2 separate regions of the Homo sapiens genome follow, and region 1 is linked to region 2. Evidence: fine-mapped expression QTL. A gene starts in region 2. The other region holds a variant in brackets. All regions are shown on one strand. Distances are from middle to middle.

The links. PIP is the estimated chance that this variant, and not a neighbour inherited with it, causes the effect.
Region 1: its variant is fine-mapped to the expression of FYN in B cells (Fairfax 2012, PIP 0.95). The same link has a PIP of 0.9 or more in NK cells, monocytes and monocytes after LPS.

Annotation. Positions count from the first base shown.
Region 1 is chr6:111,660,043-111,662,935 of GRCh38, reverse strand. It overlaps FYN (FYN proto-oncogene, Src family tyrosine kinase), which reads left to right. Exons shown (of 14, transcript NM_002037.5): 14 at 989-2,604. The coding sequence ends at 1,197. Among named protein-coding and RNA genes, the nearest start is that of TRAF3IP2, 56 kb to the right of the region's middle. RefSeq lists enhancers at 1-208, 209-890, 891-1,574. The variant C/G (reference allele first, on the strand shown) is at 1,101.
Region 2 is chr6:111,872,017-111,874,921 of GRCh38, reverse strand. FYN (FYN proto-oncogene, Src family tyrosine kinase) reads left to right here and starts at 1,470. Exons shown (of 14, transcript NM_002037.5): 1 at 1,470-1,954. It overlaps LOC102724646 (a long non-coding RNA gene), which reads right to left and starts at 1,470. Exons shown (of 3, transcript NR_168402.1): 1 at 1,232-1,470. RefSeq lists silencers at 1,341-1,430, 1,551-1,800, 1,951-2,350 and an enhancer at 1,399-1,898.

The DNA of each region.
Region 1 (2,893 bases), 210 kb after region 2:
AGTGTTTCAACAGCTTCCCAAGAGTCAGAAAAACCTCAAATGATGGATGGCCTGGCTGAAGTCATCAGTAGAGATAGGCCCCGGACATGGTCTATCTCCCCATCAAATTCACCAAACCTCAGGGCACTGTGGGGTTGCAGGGCCAGACAGTGCCCAGCCACGCTGGCATGATGGCAGATCTCCAACAGTGGGGAACTAAGAGTTTGCCCAGGCATGAAGAAAACGAATTTATGAAGTTCATAAATGGAGTTTATAAATGCTATAAACAAGGGGCAGCATGCTTTCATTCTGTGTGGATTTTTTTGTCTGCTTTATTCATATATTGTTGTCAGTTTAATTGAAGTATAATCTACACACAATAAAATTCAACAATTTTAAGGATGCAGTTTATTGAGTTTTGACAAACATAAACAGTCACACCACCCCATACATAATATAGAACAGGGGTTGGCAGGTCTGGCTCCCAACCTGTGTTTGTTTTGTACGTTTTTAAAGGGTTGTTAAAAAGAAGAAGACAGGGATCATATGTGACCCGCAAAGCCAAAAATATTTACTGTCTGGCCTTTTACAGGAAAAGTTTGTTGACCCGTTGACCCTGACAGAACATTCCCATCCCACTTGGAGTTCCCTCTGGCCCCTTGGCAGGGATTCCTCCCCTCCCCCAGGCAGCCACTGATCTGCTTTCTATAGATGTAGTTGCGCCTTTTCTAGAATTTCGCATGAATGAAATCATACCGTATGTTGCCTGTTGTGTCTGGCTTCCTTCACTTATCATGTTTTGAGAGTCATTCTGAATTTTTCATGTCTCAGTTCTGCACTCCTTCTTTACTCCTGAGTAGCATGGCAGGGTTTGACTCCTGGGGGGATGGGAGTACTCCGCATGTTTTAGCCACATGCAGACGCAAAGAAGAAGAAAGGGGATCTGCAAGTGCGGCGGTCAGGGCCTGGATCCCCGGGGTGCCCACTCTCACTGCGCTTGTCTTTGCAGGCATGAACAACCGGGAGGTGCTGGAGCAGGTGGAGCGAGGCTACAGGATGCCCTGCCCGCAGGACTGCCCCATCTCTCTGCATGAGCTCATGATCCACTGCTGGAAAAAGGA[C/G]CCTGAAGAACGCCCCACTTTTGAGTACTTGCAGAGCTTCCTGGAAGACTACTTTACCGCGACAGAGCCCCAGTACCAACCTGGTGAAAACCTGTAAGGCCCGGGTCTGCGGAGAGAGGCCTTGTCCCAGAGGCTGCCCCACCCCTCCCCATTAGCTTTCAATTCCGTAGCCAGCTGCTCCCCAGCAGCGGAACCGCCCAGGATCAGATTGCATGTGACTCTGAAGCTGACGAACTTCCATGGCCCTCATTAATGACACTTGTCCCCAAATCCGAACCTCCTCTGTGAAGCATTCGAGACAGAACCTTGTTATTTCTCAGACTTTGGAAAATGCATTGTATCGATGTTATGTAAAAGGCCAAACCTCTGTTCAGTGTAAATAGTTACTCCAGTGCCAACAATCCTAGTGCTTTCCTTTTTTAAAAATGCAAATCCTATGTGATTTTAACTCTGTCTTCACCTGATTCAACTAAAAAAAAAAAAGTATTATTTTCCAAAAGTGGCCTCTTTGTCTAAAACAATAAAATTTTTTTTCATGTTTTAACAAAAACCAATCAGGACAGGTGTTTGTTTTTGTTTTCTTTTTTATAAATATGAATATATATAATATATATGTCCCTGTACATATACAATGTGGGTGCTAATGTGGAGACTGTGGCCGGCCTGAGCCACCAAGCTGCGGGACCCAGAGGGAGGATTTTACTGCAAGTCAGCATCAAAGCACCGGTGTTATTCTGAAAACACCAGTGGCCTCATTTTTGGCTTTTGCAAAGCATGAATTTTTTCATTTGGATTGCACTTTCCTGGTTCATGACTGTACCTGTAGGTGGTTGTTACTTTGACTCTTTTCAGGAACCACCCCCCAAGCTGAATTTACAAGTTCTGTTAGCACTATTTGCTTCAACTTACTGCGATTTGTTCTCAAAACTTAAAAATAAGCAAGCAAATGGCTGATACTACCAAGAGAACTGGAAGATGGATACCACACAAACTTCTTGTATAAAAATATGAATGCTGAAATGTTTCAGACATTTTTAATTTAATAAACCTGTAACCACATTTAAGTGATCTAAAACCCATAGCATTGTAGTCATGGCAACCCGCTAAACTTTCTCATGCAACTAAAATTTCTGGGGGAAATGAGGGTGGGGGTTGTACATTTCCCATTGTAAAATAAGTGTTTTAAATGTCCTGTACTGCTAACGAATGACTTTCTATATGTCCAGGAGTTCTCCAGTGGAATAACTATGCACTACTTTACATTTCATGGGGATGCACAAAAACAAAAAAGTATTACATTTTTAGTTGCTGTTTGTACCAACCTTAAATTACATATGTTTAACAACAACAAATCAAAAATCCTATTTCTATTGAGTTTTTAATACTGACTAGCAACTCTGAAGTCTTAATTCCTTTTTTGTTATGATTTATTTGTGAGTTTACATTTTTAAATTGTTTAACTTTCTTAATTTAGTAATTAAAAAGAGAGCATTTTACATTTGAATTTTTTTTTTGTTTATTTGTTTAAATCATGGAAGGTACTCGTAGTTCTGTGGCACATCTGTCCCACACCAGATGGTATGGAATCACCTGGTGAATTTAGCCTTTGTGCGATGACTTGCAAATGACAGAAACATTCAGAACATCTGGAGAGTTCTTTTCCCTCTAGAAAGGGTAGGCTCTTGACCAGCTATTTCAGAGGATCATTAAAGCAAAAGTAGGCATACCTTACCATCTGAATTTATCAGACATTTTTTCTAACCGGAATTTACTGTGTCCTGCTTGTAGGAGAA
Region 2 (2,905 bases):
ATGAAGCTGGCTTTCTCTTGTATGGAAATATCCTAGTCCTAGCTATGGTTCCATTTCTTGGGATTATGGAATTTCCAGACACAATTTAAACATGGTTTAATTTGTCATTTTGTTTAAGGAAAAGGAAAAAAATCCAGTAACCTCTGTATACTGTCACCTTGAGTTAGTTACTTAACTTTTCTTTTCCTCAGTTTCCTCCTCCATAGGATGCAGATCATTTAATAAATGTTAGCAACTTTTCTTAAAAAGTAGTGTGTACAAAAAGAAAAAAGTCAGCAAAAGGGACAGATTTTTTTAAACTACAGTAAAAACAAGTAGTGGGCCGGAAAGGCAATATTATAGATTTTGAGCACAGAAGCAGAAGCTGATTCACTTATAATTTCTTAGAACATTAGATTTGCTGAGGGGGAAGGTAGGGTTCTTGCCAAAATCATTAAGGAGAGCGATTCTGAGTATGCCTTAAAGCAGAACTTTCAGTAAACAGGAATTACCTATAAAGAAAATCAGGAAGCCAAAGTGTTTCTTTTTATGAAGTTACATCCTGCCATAGAAAAGCTGGATAGGAAATAAAGACCGATGCACTCCCAACTGTATACTAAACCGGCAATTATTTCATCAAGGGAAATATGAGCAAAAGCTCAGATTCAGTGAAGGGGAAAAAAACATGAGAAGTTTGAATGTTATGAGAAACCAAAGACAACCAATGACTACAATTAAACGAGGTTTTTTGGGGGTGGGGCGGGGAATGTACGAACAAATCTCTGTCATTTCAGGTTCCTTAGTCGCCGCTTGGCCCCTCCCCCTATTTCAGTAATACTTCCTCCAGACTTTTGCTAGAAAAAAAATATAAATGAGTGTCCGCAGAAATAGGGGACTGATAAAATGATCCTAATCTCCTTCTCCTCCTCATTGTTATTTGTTGTGCGTTTCCACGTTTCAGGACAGGATTCTACTTTGCTCCGTACTCTTTTCAGTTTGATCAAAGAAAACGCTGCTATCACCGCCCAATTTTCCATTTCATCCTCTCACCCTCAAATGAAAAGACACCAGAAAGGCAAGATAGCCCTGTCTCGAGGCAGTTTCCCATGGTTTTGGGGGAATGGCAGGTGCCAATCTGCAGCAGCAGCTGCAACCTTCCGCAAAGCGGAAACTGCAGTTCACACTCTCCGCTCTTTCTCCCGCCCTACTCCGCCACCTCACAACTCCACACAATCCTTAAAAACACACAGACCTCCTCCTCCAACCTCGCATTTTCTTGCACACCCTGCACCGCACGCACCCTGGGATGCCCGCTGCCACAGTAACGCTCAACCCACTCGGCGGCCCCACCTACTGCCGTCCCGCCCACGCCCCAGGCGCCAATGGTTGCGGCTCGCAGCTCCCAAGGGGCTCTTTGATAGGGCAGCCGGGCCTGTCACTCTCGAGGCGCGCCCCGCCCCCTCCTCGCTCCCCTCCGGAGCTGGAGGGGCAGAGCATCAGCAAGAGTAGCAGCGAGCAGCCGCGCTGGTGGCGGCGGCGCGTCGTTGCAGTTGCGCCATCTGTCAGGAGCGGAGCCGGCGAGGAGGGGGCTGCCGCGGGCGAGGAGGAGGGGTCGCCGCGAGCCGAAGGCCTTCGAGACCCGCCCGCCGCCCGGCGGCGAGAGTAGAGGCGAGGTTGTTGTGCGAGCGGCGCGTCCTCTCCCGCCCGGGCGCGCCGCGCTTCTCCCAGCGCACCGAGGACCGCCCGGGCGCACACAAAGCCGCCGCCCGCGCCGCACCGCCCGGCGGCCGCCGCCCGCGCCAGGGAGGGATTCGGCCGCCGGGCCGGGGACACCCCGGCGCCGCCCCCTCGGTGCTCTCGGAAGGCCCACCGGCTCCCGGGCCCGCCGGGGACCCCCCGGAGCCGCCTCGGCCGCGCCGGAGGAGGGCGGGGAGAGGACCATGTGAGTGGGCTCCGGAGCCTCAGCGCCGCGCAGGTAAGCAGGCGGCGGGGATGCGTCGCGGGAGGCCTCGGGGATGCTGCGGAGAAGCCCGGCCGCCGGCGCCCCCGCGCACGCCGCCCCCGCCGCAGGGCCCGGTGCTGCGGTCCCTTGGCCGCCAGGGCGCTCCGCGGGGCTGCCGGGGAGTCGGTGCTTGGGGTCTTCCCGCGGTTGCACCGGAGGACACCCCTGCGGGGTGCGGCCCCGAGGCAGCGCGGGGATGGGGACCCCATTTCCTCGCCCGCAAGCGGGCGCCGGGTGAAAATGGGAATTGGCTTGGGGGCGAGGCTGGCCCAGACTCCGCCCCCGCCCTCCTTTTGGGGCCCCCCGCGGGGACTGGGGCTGTGTGTGTTGTTTTAATGTCAGGGATGATGTAATCACTTAATAATTGATGCCCCGTGCTGCTTCCCTCCCCACCCAACCCCTGCCCCACTCCTCCACCTCTCGGCCTCCTCCCTCGGCGGCGGTCGCCTTCTCCAACCCATCCTCCTGCCTATTTCTGGCACCTCCCTTGCACTTCCCCCATCCTCCCCTTCACTCTTCCTGTGCCACCACCCACCCACCCTTCCCCTTTCCCCTGTGCTGGAGCCTTCCCTCCTCTTCCTCTGTCCCCCACCCCTCTGCTCCCTCCAGCTCTTTTCTCCTTCCTTTCCGGCTCCCTCGCTGGATTTCCTCTCTACTTCCCTAGATCCATGGCTGTTTTTGTTTGGGCTCCTCCCCTCTGTTATCTCTGCGGCCACAGGCGGAGGGGACTGGGCCAGAAGGAGGCCACCGAGCTTGGGCCCAGCAGAGATGTGCTGGGACTCACTGGGAAGAGGGATAATAAAATCACCCTTCTTGCCCCTCCTTCCCCCAATAAATCACACAGACTCGCCGGGTGTGTGAGTGTGAGTGTGACACAAAGAGCCCTTTCAGTGCATAGAGAGGAGACACACAAAGTACCCTAGG